Homo sapiens: one gene and its partners. The protein of the gene in region 2 purifies or fractionates together with the protein of the main gene of each other region. This does not show direct contact. Each region holds a gene or a part of one and is shown on either strand. Other genes may lie near its edges.

The links.
Region 1: the proteins of MRGBP (region 2) and EPC1 purify together in Homo sapiens (affinity purification with mass spectrometry; 7 studies listed by BioGRID and IntAct, with this or other methods). This does not show direct contact.
Region 3: the proteins of MRGBP (region 2) and ING3 purify together in Homo sapiens (co-immunoprecipitation; 5 studies listed by BioGRID and IntAct, with this or other methods). This does not show direct contact.

What each region holds. Positions count from the first base shown.
Region 1 is NC_000010.11:32,267,239-32,274,170, forward strand, and holds the end of EPC1 (enhancer of polycomb homolog 1), read right to left. Parts: intron 6,801-6,932; exon of another isoform or gene 6,684-6,800; intron 6,044-6,683; coding exon 5,925-6,043; intron 5,877-5,924; exon of another isoform or gene 5,845-5,876; coding exon of another isoform or gene 5,776-5,844; intron 4,930-5,775; coding exon 4,788-4,929; intron 4,680-4,787; coding exon 4,316-4,679; intron 1,898-4,315; coding exon 1,825-1,897; 3' UTR 513-1,824; downstream 1-512. UniProt on the Homo sapiens protein: Component of the NuA4 histone acetyltransferase (HAT) complex, a multiprotein complex involved in transcriptional activation of select genes principally by acetylation of nucleosomal histones H4 and H2A.
Region 2 is NC_000020.11:62,791,904-62,799,480, reverse strand, and holds the start of MRGBP (MRG/MORF4L-binding protein), read right to left. Parts: upstream 3,009-7,577; 5' UTR 2,958-3,008; coding exon 2,810-2,957; intron 2,372-2,809; coding exon 2,250-2,371; intron 895-2,249; coding exon 813-894; intron 629-812; exon of another isoform or gene 507-628; coding exon 432-506; intron 26-431; coding exon 1-25.
Region 3 is NC_000007.14:120,967,765-120,974,788, reverse strand, and holds part of ING3 (inhibitor of growth protein 3), read right to left. Parts: intron 6,856-7,024; coding exon 6,698-6,855; intron 5,779-6,697; coding exon 5,585-5,778; intron 4,102-5,584; coding exon 3,909-4,101; intron 3,589-3,908; exon of another isoform or gene 3,444-3,588; intron 1,585-3,443; coding exon 1,546-1,584; intron 62-1,545; coding exon 1-61. UniProt on the Homo sapiens protein: Component of the NuA4 histone acetyltransferase (HAT) complex which is involved in transcriptional activation of select genes principally by acetylation of nucleosomal histones H4 and H2A.

The DNA of each region.
Region 1 (6,932 bases), on a different chromosome or scaffold from region 2:
CTGGCTCCCTGTGGCCGACACGCCCTACCCCAGCTCCCTCCAGCCCTGGCGGTGTTATCCAGTGCAGTAGACACACTACCACCTCGGGATCTCTGTACTTCTCTCTGCCTGGAATATTTTTCCTTAACTTCCAGTCTCTGATGAAACATAACTGCCTGTGGGCCCTTCCTTGACCACCCTACTTGAAACTGCAACCTCCAGCCTTCCCGGGCACTGTTTGTTCCCTTCCTTCACTTTTCTTCCAAATACTGGTCGTAATATATTTTAAATGCATTTATTTATTTATTTTCCCCCTATGAGAGTATAAGCTCCATGAGGGCAGGAATTATTTTCCCCACAGTTGTAGGACCTAAAGTGGTCCCAGGCATTGCAGTCATTCAGTAAGTAACTGTTGAAGAAAATGAACTTAAAGTCATCACCCCCCATTTCCATCCCCTCCTTTATGGAATGATTCTAATATAAGTCACACAGAGGTTCTTGGGTTGAAAACAAAAGCAAAAGACCACTACACATTAGTTTGTCAACATGTAATGCCCTGGGTTTATTTTGTGAGAATTCTATCACAATTTTTCCAGGTGGGATTAAAAACCTTAAGGATAATGTATGCCATTGGACTGGGCATTCAGACTTCGGTACTGACAAAGCACTAGTAGTAGTCTGTTAAGTACCATTCTCTTCACAGAAGAGAGGTCAAATATTTCCAAAGGAAGGCACCCGATATTTGTGGTTCTGGCCTTGCAGCCTTCTGGAGAATCTTAAAAGGAAAAAAGCTGGCTGGCTGTTTTTAGAAACTGGAATGATGATACACGTACAGCAATTACTGCATTCTTCTCCCTTATATCCTTTTCGTAAGAACAAGTAAAGAATGAAGTCTTTTAAACAATTCGACAATAAAAAAGTACAATTTTTTTTGTGCTAAAAAAAGGGCAAGACAACATAAACTCCAGTTGTAAGGACTCCATTTGCATACTTGATTTAACACTTTTTGGTGTGGAAGGAAATGGGACTACTGGGCTGTTCGCAGAGCAGCAACATAATATTAGTGCTTTAAGTACCAGAAACCACCCACAGCTTTGTGGGCAAGTTGGGGATGGAAAGATTCAAGAGACTTCATTTTTAGCTTGTTACTTGTCCTAATGATAGTAGACCAGGAAGATCCCCATTTAATAGTACATTCCCCATTTTTAAAAAAACTGATGCCTTTTTTTTTTTTTTTTTTTTTGTAAAATTCTGTATGTATGTCACCATTTTTTTTCACATGATACACAGAAAACTCAAGGACCCAGAGGGGAACCAAGTTATGTTATACCATTTACAAAATACCAAGGAGTCCACAGCTACCTAACACATTTACTACAGCACAGGAACCAATGAAGGTACAGTGTACAAAAAACTGTAAACACGGCACAATAAATAGATAAAACAGCAGGTTCCGCACCATGCACATGATGTGATGACACTTCATCTCTATACAATCTCACATCTCACACTCTTTGTTGCAATTGATTTCCCTCCCACCCCCCACCCCCAAGTGCAAAGCATCACAAATGAACATTTCTGTATTCAAGTAACATATATACAAGGGTATTACAAATATGCAGTACTGTACAGATAATTGCTGTATTCTTAATTTACAGATGTTGATTTTTTTCCTATTAACAGTAAGAAAAGAAAAATTGAAGCATGAGAGATGAGCATTGCTGTCAAGTCCCCACAGCTGCCACAGAAACGCATGTGCTGCTTTCCATCATCCCTTGCATTCAAAATGCTACTGATGCATAGCACCTAATCAAGTCCCCAGGCTGCAGTTCCACTCGGAGGAAGCTACGTCACCTCCATCGCTACTGTGTTGTCTGCTATGTTGTTCAGTGCTGGCTTTTCTGATTCATGATTTTCCCTGTTGAAATAAAGTTCAATCAATTACTTATCTACAACATAAATATTCAGCAAATGAACATTATCTTCCCAACAAAAAGTTTATTTTTATTAACAGGAAGAAATTGGACTCTTTGGGAACAAGCTAGCAAGTAGAGGAATACGAATCTTTATAGTTTATTATCAGAAATCAGGCTAATGTTGACTATAAATAAATTCCACAGTCAACTACATTACCATCAAAATTATAGTAGTACTCAAGCAACCTAGATGTTAAAAACAAAGAATTCCCATGTTTTAGTAATTGTTGTTTCAAGTTCCTTCTCTATTAAACCTTTCAAAAGAGTTTTTAAAAAGGAAACAAACATAACTGAGATTTGTGTCAGGCTTTAAATCAGTCTAATACATGGAGCTGAGTGGCACAGCCACAGAGCTCGAGGGCCCTAGTGGTTCTACAGTCTAGACTTTTGAGTGTCCTTAGAGAAATACATTAACTTCTCTGCGTCTCAGTTTCTTCATCTTTAAAAACAAAAGGACATGTGATATGAAAATTCTATACATGGCAAATATTCCATGGTTAAACAATTCTAGAGCAGTAAAATCATGATATGAGTCAGAACTATAGCTGACAGATGAGCTATATAATTAGACCCAGAATACTATTAAGAATGGATTGGCATTAAGCAGACAATGACTGTTACTTAAATTCAGAAGCAGATGCAGATGCATGGTTTGGAAACTACAGGCCACAGTTCATTGCTACAAACCCTGCTTTCTTCTGGGCCACTCCTGGCTGAGACAGTCTACCAGTCTGGCATTTAAAGTGCTCCAGGAATCTGGAATGGCTTCTCCTGCCATTCCAATTTAAACTACTAACCTTCCTGAGCCTATACAAAAACCAGTTTACTTGTTAACTTCTAAACACTTGTATTTCCTCAACTTTGTATTTTCACTCAGCCTCAAATTTGTATTTCACTCCACCTGCCAGAAATGCTTTTTCTTTCTCCTCTTTGCCCGAAGACTAACACAGATTGGATCTGATCTTATTTTGTTAGAAGAGTCCCAGAATTCCCTGTGCAAAAAAAGATTTCTCCTTATACTGAATTACAGCCATCATCTATACAATTAATTTAACAAGTATATAATGCTTTGTGATATCTACAATTAGCATTATTGGACTTCTCACTCTTTTATGCTTGTCTGCTAACTAAACTGAAAACACCTGTCTTTTTCTTTTGTTTCTCCCACAGTACCTTGTAGACAGCAGGATTTTAACTACCCTTAATTCTACAACATAATAGAGCATAAGCAAAATTCTCAACTGTCTACTGAAATCCAAGACGGCAAGTTAGCACAAAAAATAATGGTTCAATTTAGAGTTGACCTGGCATGAATACTGTAAGTCTTTACATTAATAAGAATAGCTTAACGCCGGGCGTGGTGGCTCATGCCTGTAATTCCAGCACTTTGGGAGGCCAAGGCAGGCTGACCACCTGAGGTCAGGGGTTCAAGACTAGCATGGCCAACATGGTGAAACCCCGTCCCTGCTAAAAATGCAAAAATTAGCCAGGCATCGCGGTGTATGCCTGTAATCCCATCTACTCAGAAGGCTGAGACAGAATCACTTGAACCTGGGAGGCAGAGATTGCAGTGAGCTGAGATTGTGCCACTGCACTCCAGCCTGGGCAACAGAGCGAGACTCGGTCTCAAAAAAAAAAAAAAAAAAAAAAAAAAAAGAATAGCTTAGCATACCAGTGATGGGGCAGGGGTTTCTATCAATTCTACCTGTTTACATGAGAAGCTGTGGAAAAAAAGTCATAAAAGAAACGCTCTCAGGAGAACTCCTTCCATCCAAAGACGGAAGAAAACTGAGAGCATTATACGCTTTTTTTTTTTTTTGAGACAGAGTTTAGCTCTTGTTGCCCTGGCCAGAGTGCAATGGTGCGATCTTGGTTGCAACCTCCACCTCCCAGGTTCAAGCGATTCTCCTGCCTCAGCCTCCTGAGTAGCTGAGATTACAGGCATGCGCCACCATGCCCGGGTGATTTTGTATTTTTAGTAGAGGTGGCCTTTCACCATGTTGGATCGGCTGTTCTCGAACTCCTGACCTTAGGTGATCTGCCTGCCTCTGCCTCCCAAAGTGCTAGGATTACAGGCGTGAGCCACTGCACCTGGTATAACTATTGTTATAGTAAGAAAGGGATGTTCCAAATCATATATGCAACATTCACTATACCAGTTAGTTCAAATTCTTAATATTGAATTAAGTGTTCAAGAACTGTTTAGTTCTTGAATAAATAAGTGATCAATTCTCAACTATACATTTTCAATGTATAAAAGGAAAAGAACAAGAAACACAAAGAAATAGGTAAAGAACGATGCTGGAGGACTGAAGTTAGATCTCTTATTCCAGGTATGTTAGGCAAAAATAACTACTCACCTTGGAACTGAATCTACAGAGGATGAAGATGGGACCTTGGAAACTTGACAGTTTGCTGCAGCGGCCAGCTTTAAGGCAGATGATGGAACAGCACTTAAAGTCCTAGGTATATGTCGTGCATTTATTGGGGCAATAGAGTTTACAGTGGCAACTGATGAAGGTACAGTTAATCGAATGTTGTTCCCAATCAGAACCTGAGTTGTTGCAGAATTGGCAGCAGTTACTTGATGACTCAGTGCACTGTGGGAACTTGAAGTCTGTGTAATATTTGAAGGCTGTAACAAAGCTGAACCTGCCGTTGATGGACTTGTATGTACAAGTGCTGTTGGTGTAGTACTACTGAGGTGTAAGCCCTTGTATACTCCTAGAGAGAAAAAGAAAGAAACATCTAAACAATGTACAACTTTGCTGTTTATATTATAGATATATGTTATAAATATAACCCAAACAATTTAAATGTCTTTATTCTTACCTGAGGCTGGAAGGACGCCATTCACCCCGATTCCAAGCACCACATCATCCTTCATCTTGAATCCCATCAGTTGTTCTGATGTCACCAAAGCAGAAGCAGCAAACTGTGCACTAGCAGAATCCAAAGTCTTAGAAACAAAACCCTAAAAAGAAAATACAAAAGAAATCTAATCAGTATCACTTAGTATCAAATCAATATCAAAACTACACATGCATACCAAAATCAGTTTGAATATAAGTAAAAATGGCAAACCACTGAAATCTTTCTATTTTGGTACCTTGAGATGCAACAGTAATTATATCTCTTTTGATAGTCATATATTTGATAAGTGAAAAGTAATCTAAGTTATAAATTTTGCTTCATATGTGACAATATATAATATGTATAAGTCAATTACCAAAATAAGCCTTCTATAATGTGGAAACAGCAAACCTCCAACACAAAATGTTGGACAAGAAATATGCTAGTAAACATTTCAGTGATTTGCAAATCCATATAATGAATAAATGAATATGTAAACTTCCTTCACCTAACTTATACACACACACATATGTATACACACACAATGAAAGGCACCTTTGGGATAAGATAACTATCCCTTTAGAAATGGAAGTAACAAAATATCACATAATTTAACCTAGAAATTGATAGGCCCCTCAACTTTTTAAAAATATATTTTTCCTGCAAGATGCAGGGACTCAAACCTCAGCCTTTATGCCCTACATGTGTTTAACTGGCAAACGTTTATCATGCTTTAGGTTTAAAAGTTATCTCTTTCAACAGTTGGAGAGGTTATTTTTGCATAATGTTAAAAGCCTTAATAATAATTAACATGCCCAAGAGAATGAACTGGGTGGGGTTATATATTCAAGAGGTACATTAATGGACTACAGGTCAGACGGGAAGACAGTATCTTCATCTCATTTAACTAAGTGCTTTAGTTTTACTTTTTAAAATAGGGAGCAGAGGCAACAGCTTCCATACTCACCTGTAGTGTTCTTTCTAAACCCTGTATATTCAGGCGAAAGCCACTTTTCTGCTGGTTAGATGCAAGGTTCTATGACAACAGTTGGTAATTAGAGATGAACTCTGGTGGGAAACAATGAGGGATAATCATAAGACAGACAAATCCCTCACCTGTGATGTGTTGGTGGAGGAATTACTATTTGCTTGCTGTTGCTGAATTTGTGCAAGCTGCTGTTTCTGCATGAGTGCCAGTTGCTGTTGATGTTGCTGGTATTGTTCGGCTGTAAATGCTGAACATAAAATAAAGAAACACTTTATAAAAATGCCCAGCTGTCATGTATGTCTTACAGTACTAAAACAAAAATTCTGCATTAAATCTGTGCAAAATTGAAGCATCTGACAAAGGATCATGATCCTGCTAAAGATCACTTCCAAATGAAAATTTCTGCGTTTCTGCTACCACATTTAACAAGAGTGGCATGAATTTAAAGAAAAAAAAAATTAAACTTCCTGAATTAAACACAGGAAAGAGAACTGCTCACTTCCCAAATTTCAACACCACTATTTTTTTTTTAAGCTGTGACACTTGTTCTACACAGTGTAGAAAGATAATATCAGCTTTTAAAATCCATAGATTTGGAATTCAGCTTTGCACTGAGCTTGAGAGAATATCTGATAATTACATTTGGTTTCTATTTAATCCATATCTTCCCAAGGCATTCAGATGATCCCTAATGGCTCTGTGTATATATACTAATAGTTCTACATATTTTCTAATTGTAGTCATTAAAAAAATTTGCTCTATATGAAAGATTACAGTTGTTGGTTGGTTTATTGCTTTTTTTTAAAGAACTCATCCTTTAAGTTTAACAGGAAGAAAAGAGGCTCTAATGTTAAGGTTAATTAATTTTCCCCACCCAATTAACCCACCTGGAAAAAATCCAGTCAATAAGAACGGAGTTGTTTATGTTGATTTACTGTACAGAATGATGTCTGAGGAAAGACACTGTGTTATGCTACTTATGTTTGTCTATGGAGAGCTCAGTTCTAAAAAAAACAAACAAAAAAATGTTCATTTATTACCCCCCCAAAAAAGTGTGTGCAGTTTTTAAAAAGGAAACCTTTTTCTCTTTTTTGCCAATTAAAAAAAAAAAAAGCACATACAATCACAATACCTCT
Region 2 (7,577 bases):
CCCAAACTCCCTGAAGATGAAAAAACTGAGAAACGAAAAATCACTTGGCTGAAAACAGAATATCCAGAATCTTATTTTTGTCTTCCTGTTCAGTTAAAAAAATCTGCATACTGACACGTGACCCTCTGAACCCAAAGCTTCCTCCTGAGCTGGGAGCCCCTTGCATTTGGGCCCACAGAGGGGCCTGGTCCTCCTGAGGACCTGCCTGCGGCGGGCACTGCAGGGACCGCCGCTCAGACCCTGGCCTACAACATGGAGCAGGCACTCAGCTCCTGGGGAGGGGGCACTGCAGGATCCATCCTGTGCCTAGATGACCTGCCTGGGGCCTCTGCACCGCAGGCTCTACGCCCACCTGACTGTGCCCTGCCTGAAGGCAGTCTTGGGGTGCTGAGCCCCAAAGGGCATCAGGGCAGGGTGAGCTCCACACTCACCATCGTCAGCCCCATTGTGGGGGTCCACGTCTTCCTTCATCTCCTCTTTCATCTCCTCTTCTATCATCACTTTTCCTGTGGAGGAGACAGCTGACGCTCACCGAAAACCCACGGTGGTGGCCGACGCTGGGGGATGGTCAGGCCAGGGACTGCTCCGACGCTTGCTGCCCACACAGGCCTCAGCTTCCGTCCAGCCACTGCTCTCAAACAAAGTCCTCTCCAATCCCGGAGGTTCCAAGACCACCCAAGCACAGGTAGGGCGGGGTCTGCGCTGGACCCTCACACCTCCCTGGAGGCCCGGGGTCCTCACCCTCACCTCCCTGCCCTTGGCCAGGGTCTGGCCTTTTCTGAATCCCAAGCCCAACCTTTCCCGAGCCTCACCTTCTCGGACCTCCTGAATGATCTCTTCTGGAAGGACGAAGTTCCTCTCTGGATTCGGGAATGGAAGAATCTCAGACTCATGCTGATATCAAATAGAGAGTTTTGTTTAAGAAACAAGGGTGAAGATGCAGTTTCAAGAAGTCACTAGAGCCGTGTAAGAGCCACTTGGGGAGAGGCCAATGAGCACACATCACTGTGTTGGAGGCTGCGGCGGGCGGGGCAAGGGCAAAGGGCATTTCTTCTTTTTGTGAACAGCGCCTGCCACAGCTGGGCTTTCCAGACAGACCCAGGGAGGGCAGAACCAGCGGCAGCAGATGCAGGAGTCAGGAAGACCCACCGGGGCCAGCATCACTAAGGCGGGCCCTGAGGACCGGGCAGCCCTGGTGACACACACCTGTGGGCTCCGCCTGCCCAGCACGGCCTGCAGTCTCACCATGAGACTGCGTTCCCCAAGGCGGCATGCAGAGGGCACAGTGACAGCCCTGGGGAAAGGCCGCAGGCACCTCGAGTTCTCATCCACGTGGCAGGAGCCCATGGACACCGAGGGTGTCGGTTGGGAGCGCCACAGGCACAGAACCAGGCAAAGAAGAAGAGAGTGCTTGCCAGGCACTGCCCTCCTGAGGTCGCACAGACCAGAGGGAGAGACCTATGTCATACTGATGGCCGGTGTGGCCCTGAGTCCAACGTGGCTGGCACAGACTCTCCACCAGCACAGGTCCCCACTCCTCCTGGTCACCTGACCCCTGACCCCCACCCCACTCTCCAAGTACACCACCTTCTTTGAGCTCCTGGACCCACCACCTCCTGCTGCCACAGGGCCTGGAACACCCACCTGTCTCTTCTGGCCACCCTGCTTACCTAGTTAACCCGCTCGCCCGTCACACAGTGCCAGCTCCAAGCTCTGCGAGGACTGGAACTCTACTTGTCTGACTCCCACAGAAGTCACCAAATTCACCTTGGTGTGACTCAGATAGGGTCACCCTCTGCCTAAAGCACTTCGGGGGCCTCCCAGGAGGCTGACAATGGCCTAAGGGCCCGGGACTCTGCATCCTTCCCTCCCTCCCCAGGGTCTCAGCTGGAGACTCTGGCCCAGCACCCAGTCTAAAGCAGAGCCCCTGAAAAGCTAGCCAGCTGCTAGCACTGTGTTTGTGCTTTCCATGACAGGCTCTGGAGCCCCGGGATGTCCTCCTTAAGGACGAGCCTCACTGCAGGGGTCTCTGCCCAGGGGACCCCAGCAGGCACGGAGGGGCCTCTGCCCAGCTCAGGCTGACCCTGAGAGCTCACTGCAGACCCCAGCAGGCATGGAGGGGCCTCTACTCTGCCCAGCAGACCCCAGCAGACATGGAGGGGCCTCTGCCCAGCTCAGGCTGACTCTCAGAGAGCGGTGTGCGGGTTCGTGCCCCCATCGGGCGGCACAGGGAGGGCGGTTGGGCTCACCAGCGCCTGCATGTCGTACATGGTGCTCAGATGGTCCCAGATGACCTTGGATGGGACCTGCCGCCCGATGTTCTGGCTGAACTTGTCCCGAATACAAATCATGTGGAAGTGTCGGTTCACACCTGAGGGGAGGAGGGGCGGCGGGATAACCGGTGAGCGGTGAGGAGAAAGGGGATGGAGGGGACGGGCTGCCCTGGGGACTGGAGGGGCAAGGGTGGCTGCGGAGAGATGGGGAGGGCCAGGGTGTGGAGGGGCTGTGGGGGGGCAGGGCTGGGTGGTGTGTGTGGGAGGGGGTGGGCTGTCCCGGGGCGGGGGTGGGGGTGGGGCACTGCGGGCTGGGACCTCGCGGTCTCACGGGGGTAGGGGTCGTGGGCGGGGTCCGGGGCGGGGTCCGAAGGGCGCGTGGGAGGGGGCGGGGGTCCCGGGACGGGTGTGGCGGCGGTGTCACGGCCCGGGCTCGGCGGGGAGCGTGGGGGCGAGGGTGTCGCGAGCGCAGGCCCCGCCCCGCCCCGCCGGTTGCCCGCCCCGCCCCCACGCGCGTCCGCAGCCTGGGCGCTCACCGACGGGCTTGTGGCCCAGCATGGCGTGGAAGAGGCACACCTCCACCTCGGGGCTCCACACCACTGTCTCCTCCGCCGGGCTGGTGGCCGCCTCCCCCGGGCCCTTGTCGCCTGCGGCGCCCCCGCCGCCCACCTCGGCCTCTCCCATGGCCGCGGCCCGGCCGAGCAAGGAGCCCCCGGCGGGAGCAGGCGCGGCCACGAGCTCCGCGCAGGCGCACTCGGGGGCGGGCGCGCGCTCCGCCGGGTACGCGCTCGGGCTCACGCGCCGGCGTCGGCGCAGGCGCAGCCGAGGTCTCGGGTCCCTTCCCGCCGGGGACTCCGCCCTGCTCCGCCCCGCGCGGGGGTTCTTAAAACGTGTTCCTCTTTAAAGCACAGTAAGAAATACACTGCACCCAAACAAAAAAGTCTGTGCTTCAAAGGAAACCATCAGAAAAGTGAAAAGACGACCCACAGATGAGAGAAAATATTTGCAAATCCTATATCTGATAATGAACTTCCTTGTAGAAGGTATAAATAATTCTTATAACTCGATAATAAAAAGACAATCTAACTATAAAACGGCTAAGGATTTGGATACACATTTTTCCAAAGAAGATGTACAGATGGGCCGGGCGCGGTGGCTCACGCCTGTAATCCCAGCACTTTGGGGGGCCGAGGCGGGCGGATCACCTGAGGTCAGGAGTTCGAGACAAGCCTGGCCAACATCGTATAACCCCGTCTCTACTAAAAATACAAAAAAAGTAGCCGGGCGTAGTGGCGGGCGCCTGTAATCCCAGTTACTCGGGAGGCTGAGGCAGGAGAATCGCTTGAACCCGGGAGGCAGTGAGCCGAGATCGCGCCATTGCAATCCAGCCTGGGCAACAAGAGCGAAACTCCGACTCGAAAAAAAAAAAAAGATGTACAGATATGGCTAATGAGCACCATCGGTCACGCGAAACTAGAATCAGCCCGCGTGGGGACCCCCTGCCCCGCCGAGACCGCCACAACCACGCGGCCGGGGTGACGAGTGCTGCGAGGGTCAGGGCTCGGGACCCTCGTGCGGTCGTGCTGTGCGGTCAGATGGGCCGCTGCTGCGAAAGACAGTCTGGCCGTTCCTTCAACGATGGAACCGTCTCCCTAGGAAGCAGCAGCTCCGTGGCGGGCGCCCGCGGCAGTGGAACAAGACACAGGTTCAGGCTGGGACCCGCAGCCGCGAGGCAAGCGCCGCCCCCAACCCGGGGCTGAACCTGCGAGGGGCGCCCGGAGCGCGGGCACCCGCACGGCGCAGCCGCGTTCAGCCTAAAAGCAGCGAGCGCGGACTGCGGCAGCGTGGGTGCGGGCTGAGACGAAAGTCAGAGAATTCAGACACGAAAATACACAGCATGGGAATCCATTCACAGGAAGAGCCAGAACTGGCAACTCCATAGGAATAGAAAGTAGATGCACGGTTGCCGGGGACGGGGGAGGGGGAGGGAAACGCGAGTCACTGCGGATGGGGACCGGCTTCTTTTTTGTTTGTTTTTGAGGCAGAGTCTCGCTCTGTTGCCCGGGCTGGGGTGCAATGGCACGATCTCGCCTCACTGCAACCTCTGCCTCTTGGGTTCAAGCGATTCTACTGCCTCAGACTCCCGGGTAGCTGGGACTACAGGCGCTCACCACGGCCGGCTAATTTTTGTATTTTTAGTAGAGACGCGGTTTCACTATGTTGGCCAGGCTGGTCTCGAACTCTTGACCTCAGGTGATCCTTCCTCCTCGGCCTCTCAAAGTGCTGGGATTACAGGCTTGAGCCACCGCGCCCGGCCGGGCCCAGCTTCATTTTAAGGAGGTGAAATGCTCTGGAATTAGATAGTGGCCACGGTTGCTCGCAACAAAACCCCACCGAATCGTGCGCTTTAAGCGGGTGAACTTAACGGTCTCAATAAAGATGTTAAGGAAAAAACAAAACCAGAAACCCCACAATTACTGCAGGCATAGGGCTCGCTGCCCGGGTCTGGGTGCGGGACGGAGGGGCTCACGCCCGCCCCCAGAGTCCAGCGCCTGCTGGGAGAAAGGGCAAGTAGGGGGTCCGGCCCTGCCGGCCTTGACCGCCTGCCTCCGACTCCCGGCCGCCGCGCAGCCCAAGCTCTGGGGAAGCGTTAACCGCGGGTCGCTGCGGAGGCCCCACCGCGGGGCGGGGCCGGGGCCGGACGGTGAAGAGGGGGCGAGATCAGGGCGGGGCCTAGGCTGGGGCCGGGCGGGGAAGCGCTCGGGAGGGCGGCTCGGGGGCGGGTCAGGGGCGGGGCCGCCAGGTCAAAACGCATCCATGACGAGCTTAAGGCGGCCTCCAATCAAGGCCGCCGCGGCCTCCGGCTCCGCCCGCTCCGCCTCTGCCTCCGCCTCCGCCTCCGCCCTGCCCTCACGGGCTTCTCTCCGCCCCATTCCCTCTCGGCCACGCCCACCACGGCCCACTGGCCAGGGAGCCGCTACGCAGATGTTTTCGCCTCTGCGGGTGTAGGCTCCGGGTCGGGCTTCCGGGTCCCTTTCCTGGCTCTGGCGCCTTCCAGCTGTGTGACCGGGCGAGGCCCTGAGCCTCTTGAGGGTTCAGTGCCCTCCTCCGTACAATGGGCCAACAACAGCCCCTTCCCTGGGGATCTCGGTGAGGGTTGGTTGCTCTGCAGGGTGCCCTGGGCCTGTGCCAGCGCGCTCAGGCATCCTGGTGACCAACCACAGCTGGCACTGGTGAACGCAGCCTCTTAGCCCAGGCAGGCTCTGGTCAGCCTCACCTGCTGGGACCGCTGAGTGGTCCAAGAGCTGGCTTGGCTGACTGGGACCTGGGCCTCAGCTTCCCCATCTGTGCAGGGGGCCGCTGGTGATACCGGTCCCTGCCATGCCCTGGTGGAGATATGGCCCAGTGAGACTTCGTGAGGGGTCTAGGCCACTGCTGTCACGTGGTACGTCTTCTACCCTGGCCCCTAGGTGGCCCTGGCCTCAGCCTTGCTCTAAAGAGGAATGAAGCCCAGCCCACAGCCCCTTAGCACAGATACGCTCGGGAGACGGGACCCTCACCGTTACTCATCTCCTTACTGTTCCCTGGACACCTTGGGGTCCCTGCGCCTCTCCACCCGTCCCTGCCAGGTACTCTCCTCCTTCAGTCTGGAGCGCCTCCTCCCTTGGGGGTCCCCTGTGCCTATTGAGAAAAGATGGCATAAAAGCGTGAGACAGGAGCCCGGACCAGGAGACCCGAGGGTGCTGAGCCCCACATTGGGCCGGGTCCACATGGAGACACACGCTTGGCTCATCCCAGCCGGGGCTGTCTGCCTGCTCCAGTGGGAACCTGGGCAGGGGTACTGTCTCCAGGGCTCTATGCTGGGCGGTCGTCATGAAATACCTGCTTTCCCCACACGCCCCCTCCTTTCTGAGGCAGGTGCCGCTGTCACGCCTGCTTTGAGGGGAGGAGTCAGAGATGAGTAGAGTGGGGAACTGCCTGGGTTGAGGGCAGAGCCGGGAATCAACCCTCAGAAGCCTGGCTCCAGCCGACCCCTGACCAACCTCCCTTCTTGGCCTGCTCTAGTCCCTGTGGACCCTCACCTGGGCTCCCCTTGCAAATCACCCTGCAGCCCCCTGGGGTGCAAATGCCTGCCCCCACCCCTTTGCCTGTCTCTCTCCTGCGCAGCCTTCACTCTCAGCTCCAAGGTCACCGCCCCAGCTGTGAGGGTCCCATTTGGTCTCTGTGGCCACACACCTGTGTTTCTCACTCAATAAGTGCTTTGTGGGATACACTTTGCACACTTGTCATTGTGAATCACGGATGATAATTTGTTCAACGTGTGCCTCCCCTGCCAGGCTATCAGCTGGCTCCAGGGGGCCAGGGCTGGGAATGGCGTGGCACCACTGTCCCCCACCTCTCAGGCAAGGCCAACACACAGCAGGTGGACAGTGACCATTTGTGGACTGGCTACACAACCTACTGACCCATTCCCTCCCTTACGGGGATGGAATGAATGATCCTCACTCTTTGATCCCTGTTGCTCAAATTTCCTTCAAAAGATGGATGTGGCTTCCCAAATATCTTGATCCCAGGAACAGAGGACTTGGATCCCAAGTGGGAAACGCTCAGGCCCTGGAAAGGCTTTCCCATGGTCAGTGAACATACAAGCCTTCCAGCTTATAGATCAGTCTTGTATAAGTCTAGCTGCATGAATCATTCCTCAGATCGGCTCTGGGTTCTAAGTGGAGTTTCTTGCCTGGGGAGCTGATGTCATCTCTGGAAGGGGGTGACCACTGCTAACCAGAGGGTGCCCATCTCCCAGCCCCATGGGGACACCTGGTTCTTGGTCATGAGAGTCGGGTGCAATGGAAGGGATGTTTAGAAGGCTTTGCTCAAACATACCCTTGCGTGTCCACATGCCTGTGGTCACAGTTTCCTCCTGTCTGGCTGAGTGTCTGGGACAGAAGTGGAATTCCATTGCAACGAGGCTGACATGGCTGATGGGACTGCTCCCTCTGCCACTCATACCTGAGACCCCAGACACTGTAGAAAGAACGCAGCCTTTGCAGCTGGGCAGCCACTGTGGGTTTTGTTTCCCCAGGTCCTCCTGCTCCACCACAGGCCATCTCCCTGGGCCTCATCCAGACAGCTGGACACTGAGCACAGCTCTGTTGTCCTCTTCCCTGGGCTGAGTGGACTCAGAGGTGCTGGGGACTGCATGGCCGCCGGACGAGGCGGGGGCTTTCCAACCCAACACCACCGAGCCTGCCTCTTCCTGCCCTGGATGCTATGTCTTCCATAGAGCCGCTTTTCCAACACAGC
Region 3 (7,024 bases), on a different chromosome or scaffold from region 2:
ATTTGCCTTTTGGTGCCTCTGTCAATCCAACGCAGCCATAATGGAACCATTCTATAGGGCACTAGAAAGCAAAATTGCAAAAAACAAGTTTTCAGTACTTCTGAAGACAAGAGAGTATATTAAAATATGCTCAGGAGACTGAATAATCCATTTAATTTAACAATAATTAGATGTGTGACATCAGAATTTTTAGATCTAGATTATTTAGACATCATTTAGACTAAATGATAAGCTTCAGGAATGAGGAAATGAAGGCACAGAAAAATTATGCATCTTCAAGAATCCTGAGGTCCATGTAATCTAGTCCCCTCATCCTAATGAATGAAAATTCACTAGTTTTCAGCTTTCAAGGGCAAAAAGAAGTGGGATGAATCTTCTATGTAGAAGGTAAATATAACTTAAGATTTTATTTAATAGTCAGCCTTATTTGCTGTCTCATAAAGTAGAATAAGCTGATTGTAATTAAAGACATTAATTTATGTCTTATGCCCTGCATTTCCTACGTGGGTGTTTCTATTCCTTGAAATGTAGAGAAAAATTATTCCTCTTTGAAACATATTAAGCAGAAAACTCTTTCATGAAAGTCTTAGCACTCAGAAGAGCACAACTGGGAATAAGAAGAATCAGAGAAGCATGATGCTGGTACTCATAGAAATCTCATTCATCATTTTCACTAACTGCCCCAGAAGAGTTTACAGTGATGTTCTTGAAATGGTTGGGCAATATTGTTTTTGCAACAACCACAAACAGCCTACAAGGGATTCTAGACAGGGAAACAGAAGGAGGCTCTGTCCCAATCTACGTGAGCATGTTGCTGTAACCCTATCAGGTCTAGGAAAAGTACACATTTTAATGCACCTAGCCAGCTCCCTCAATCTTCAGATTGTTTTACAAATTTAAAACTCTTGTTAATCTTAGGATCCTGTCACTACTAAATAAGGAGGGAGTCAAAATTACTAGACAACAATATTCTCAGTATTGAATAAAAAACGTATCTCTAACTAAAATTAAGTCTCCTAAAAACCAAGAATTCCTTCCTTTCAAATTTCCTTTACTTTTTAGATCAGGGGTGGCTCTTATCAGCTGACACCTGCAGAGTACAGGAAAAAATATTATACTCATGAGAGGAAGATAATCTCACATTAGATCCTCAATTATCCCACCCTTCACTTTAGCACGGTGCAGCCTGAAAGAATGAATTGTTTTAAAATTCCATTTCTTCAATGTGATAAATGAACTGGATTCTAGTAAACACAGTATTTTTTAGTAAAGGGAAAGGAGGGTATTTATAATTTTCATACAACATAACACTTCTGAGACAATCTGCACATAAAACCATAAAATTAGCTTTAAAAATTAAAATAGGGAACACATTAAGGGACACTACCCTATTTTGAAGAGGAATATTCTAGCATTAGCATAATATAACTAATATACCTGCAAACCTGTTTTCTTAGACCAAACCATACAGCAAATAAGACAAATATTCAAGTAATAACAACCTGTGATTTTTTTCATTCCTAAATAGAAAAATGTAATACTTACATCTTGGTTATCACATCCCACCATCTCACCATAAGATACCTAGTTAAAAAAAATTAAATGTCTTTATTATGACTATGTAACAAACACCTAGATACCAATTAACTGTTTATGTATGATACTGCTGGAAAATAAAGGGAAATACACTGAATATACAATTACATTGAGAATCAAGGTATAATAATTTTTTCCTGAAATACTCTTTTGGGCAGGGTGGGGCAAGGGTGGGAAGAAATGCACAGGAATTATCTGCCCTTCAGAAGTCTGGAAGAACTTGACATATAAATCACCCGGATGAAGGAGTCATCTTTCTGGGTAGTTCTTATTGTAAAAATTTTAAGTTCCTTTCTTGATTATTTACTTACTGAAAGTTTTTACTTCTTGGGTCACATTAGGTCATTTATATTTTTGCAATTAATAGTCTCCTTCCTTGAAACTTCTAAACTTATCTATTTTATGTCCTTTCTCATTTTTCTTTTGCTCTTCATCACCAGCACTTTAGGGCATAACTTGCTAATTCTTGAGTTCACTGAAGTTCTCAGTGGATTGAATAATTTTTCAGACAGGATTAACTAGATGGCATATCTTCTGATTCTCTGCATGAGTGAAAATATATTTACATGGTCCTATGCAGAGAAATAACTTCTCTGAATATCAAGTTTTTGGGGGCTCTTAATTTTTCCCTGAAAGCTCTACAGACATATTCCATCACCTTCTAGTTTTTTAGTGTTACAGAGGAAAACTCTAGGTTCAGTCTGATTTTGTTCTTTTGCAAGTAATCTACTTTTGTTGTCAGGATACAGGATATGCTTTTCTATCATTTGTACTGAAAAATGTTTATCGGGTGATAGTGGAACAGCTAACAAATTGTTAAAATTTTTAAAAATCAGACTGGCAACTCATACTGTTAGACACAATAATCTGCTGATAGACTAAGTCTTAAATGTGAAGAAACTGAAGCATGCAAAGAACTAGACAAAACCATATAAAAACTAGGAGAAAATATTATACAAGACAATTTTTTGTAGAAAGAAGAGCCAAAGAGAAAGCCCTTCTAAGTATATAATCCATGGCTTGCTTCATAAAAAAAAATTAACAGTCATAACTACATAAAATTAAAATTTTAGAATTATTTTTAAAAAACTAAATCAAGCAAATATTTAGAGTACATAACAAAAACAATAGAAAAATCAGCCGACACCATTAGGAGTCGATTCATAATGTAAAAAACAAAAATGGTCAAAAAATGTCCAACTTCAATAATACTAGTGTATTTAAAACAATCATAATATAAAACTACCAAATTGGTACTTAGTTTTTAAAAGAAAATAATATCCAGTGTTGGACAGGGTTTAGTAAACCGGTATGTTTATTAATTTTTGGTAATAAATTTCTAGAAAATATATTTTGGTGTCTGTCAAATATTTACAGCCTAATTTTATTTCTAAAAGATTATCCAAGAAATTAGATGTATAAAATGGATTACATTTAAAAAATGCCTATCGTAATATTATCCCTAATTTCAAACAAATTAAAACCACTAATATAATCTATAGCTAGGTATTGGTTAAGAAAACTACACTGGATGGCATAAGAGATAACTATGTGAAAATTAAAAATATGATCTTAAAGAAAAATCATGTTCGGTATACCTGATTTAGAGAAAAAAGCCAGTAACAAGAAAGTATACACTGTGGTTCCTACTGACAAACTTATACACACATGCATGTGCAAATCTGCATAGACACGTGTTATGAAATGCAAGCTTATGTCTCAAAATCATATGTTGAAGCCCTAACCCCCAACGTGACTATAATTGGAAACAGGGCCTGTGAGGAGGTGGTAAAGGTTAAATGAGGTCATAGAGTGGGGTCCTACTCTGACAAGGCTGGTGCCCTTATAAGAAAAGACACCAGAGCACACTCTTTCTCCCTCTATCATGTGAGGACCCGGTGAGAAGGCAGCAGTCTCCATCTAGGAAGGGAGCCCTCCTCCAGAACTGAGTCAGTGGACACCTTGATCTTGGACTTCCCAGCCTTCATACCTGTGAGAAAATTATTTTCTGTTGTTTAAGCTACCCAGTCTGTTGTATTTTATTAAGGCAGCCAATGTGCACATGAGGTATATGGTAGTGGTATACCAAAAATGTTTAGTTACAGGTTGTATCTGAGGGCTAGGATTATGGGTAACATTTTTCTTTATACTCAGTATTTACAGCAAATGTCACTTTTGTAAGAAGGGGGAGAAAAGTATACAAATAAAGCAAAGGTATTTTAAGTGAGTTTAAAAAAGTGCTTAAAAATGAAATAGTTCTCTTCCTTCTAGTTTATTCAGATTATACTTTTATAGATATAACAGACTTTTACCTGATTACAAATGCAGTATCGAGGTTCATTTGGGTCGTAAGTCCAATCAACCTGACTATTTGAATCAGATTCTGGCACTACAGTTGTTTGTTGAGAGATTTCTTGTACAACAGTTGATGATGAAGAACACGATGATAAGGAAGAAGAGGAGGAGGAAGATGATGACTGCTGGCTTGAAGACTTGTTGTTGTTTCTGAAAAAAATAGTATAAGTTTTATTTGCTCACCATCCAGAAGTTAACTGAGAATAACTCCTAAATAAATAGTATAAAATGAAATGACATCAAATGTATAAATTAAAGTGTAAGCTAAAGTAATCCGGATTTACCAATGACTTAAATTGTAGGTAGTACTTTGAAGAATTAACATAAGTTCTGGCTACTTTACAGACATTATTTGTATTTTTTTTTTTTTTTTGAGATGGAGTCTCGCTCTGTTGCCCAGACTGGAGTGCAGTGGCGCGATCTCTGCACACCGCAAGCTCCACCTCCCAGGTTCACGCCATTCTCCTGCCTCAGCCTCCCGAGTAGCTGGGACTACAGGCGCCCGCCACCATGCCTGGCTAATTTTTTGTATTTTTAGTAGAGATGGGGTTTCATCGTGTTAGCCAGGATGGTCTCGATCTCCTGACCTCGTGATCTGCCCACCTCGGCCTCCCAAAGTGCTGGGATTATAGGCATGAGCCACCCCGCCCAGCCACTCATTATTCGTATTTTTAAGTAAACTGAATACTCTTCATCAAAACCTAAAGCACACACACACAAAAACATTTGATGAAAGTGGTTATAACCATCAACTGATGTGTGAATACCTACCATGAGTATGGCAGGGAACCAAGACTGTAAAAATTCACAAGTAATTTACTGCTAAGCCCTATGCTATTTAAATTCTAAAAGTATAGAACTTTATCATAAGAAATTACATTAAACTTGTACCATTAAGATGAATTAATTTTTAAGATGTTTGACACTTCTGTTGTGGTTATTTCATATTGATCGTTCTTTAAGGGATTAATTCACAAAAAATATAACATATTTTAAAATACAGAAAATATAACTACTAGGTAACTAATTATTTTGGCCTAGCATTTGAACTTTCATTATGTATAAACACCCAGCATATTCAGTTACCTGGGATAGACAGTGATAAATGCTATTAGGTTTTCATATTTAAAGCTTATACAGTCATCCCAAGTCTCATATACAAAATCTAGGGATATTTTTACACCATCAGTTTTTGGGACCCAAGACTAAGAATGAAGACGCCTTGCTTGCTGTTAATCAAAATGAAAAATCTTGTTTAAAAAAAAAAAATCACCAGGATATAATTTGCATTGCATTAATTTACCTTGAAACACATGGCAAAATAAAGGGTAATAAATGAAAAGCAGTTCCATAAAATGATTTATCTTAATGAATAAAAGAAGATAAAAAGAAGTCATGTATTAACAAACTCAATTTATGACTCTAGAAAAATTAAAAACAACTCTAACACTTTTTAAAGACTTGACACCTTCAAAGTATGGCACTATAAAATGAAAACCGCATGTCTCCCTACCTCTGCAAGGTTAATTTTAATCCGTTATATCCTGCCTTTAACATAGAGAGGCCTGGCTGAAGTGTCAAGTAGACCAAGTGTTCAGTAAAGGTATAGGGCTACTGTAACAATAAAACTTACTTGCTCTTTCGACCACTCCGTGAGTCGGCTGCTGATGAACTGGCATTCTGTGTTAATGTTGTCATAAGTGCCGAAGATGATGAATAGCCAACTGTTTCCCTGGCCATTGAAAATTCTTTTCCCAACTGAAAGTCATTATTCTTAAATGCTTCATAACTGGCTTTTAAACTTGATGTTCTTCGTCCCTCCTTCATCTTAAATAGACATTCATTGATAGCATCAATATATGTAAATATGTAGATTTTCTTTTTCAAGTTTTACAAATTATAGTTTTATTTTGGTTTATCAAATGTTAATTTATATTGTTTAAACTATTATTTTCATCACTGGAATTTAAGCTTTTTTTTTTTTTTTTTTTTGAGGTGGAGTTTCAATCTGTCGCTTGGGCTGGAGTCTAGTGGCACGATTTTGGCTCGCTGCAACCTCCACCTCTCAGGTTCAAGCAATTCTCCTGCCATAGCCTACCGAGTAGCTGGGATTACAGGCACCCACCAGGCACCCAGCTAATTTTTTTGTATTTTTAGTAGAAATGGAGTTTCACCATGTTGACCAGGCTGGTTTTGAACTCCTGACCTCAAGTGATCCACCTGCCTCGGCCTATCAAAGAGCTGGGATTACAGGTGTGAGTCACCATGCCTGGCCTAACCTTTTTCATTTAAAGATTTAAAATAAGATTTTACACAGTTAGAATATAAACTATGGGATGGGCAGCTTCTTAATTTGGAATATAGGCAAACTATACAGAAGTGAACAAACTCAAGATGACCTAAGTCCAAGGCTACAGGGGAAGCCTTGGAACTGGCAGAAAGAACGAAGAACTATGCTAGCATGTGCTGTGGACTGCAGTCAAGAACATGGGCAACATGAGCAGTTATTGTGAGAAGGGTCTGCATGTAATCCGCATGATAAACCTATTTTTTAGTTTTCATTATCAATCAGGCAATTCCTATGTATTATTTCATTAAATAAAATATCACATATCGTGAAATCATGACTTAAAAATGAAAATATACAACGTTAGAAAACTATTTGTTCACATCCCGTTATTTCTATTAGGTTTCCAATGATTCCGACAAAATGTAACATTTTGTCTCTAAACCCTTTACTTTTTACCTGAGCTGTAGCCTGAACTGCTTGAGCAGCTGCCATGGTAATTGCCCCTGCACCAGTTCCTGAAGATAACGAGCCAATGTTATAGGATCCCAGAGGTTGGGAGGAATTCACATTGTAGGCATTGTTAGAAGAGGCTGTGGAATTATTATTTCGACAACCTGTGTAGATGTAAAAAAGAAATAAAAATGGTTGCAGAGAACATAATGTTAGTGAGTCTAAATTACATTATTTCCCAGCACAGACATATAATCATTAAAATTTTTAATGTCACTTGTACATTAAGTCAACTGAATAATGTATTTGGTTTTCCTTTTTCTTCTTTCTCCA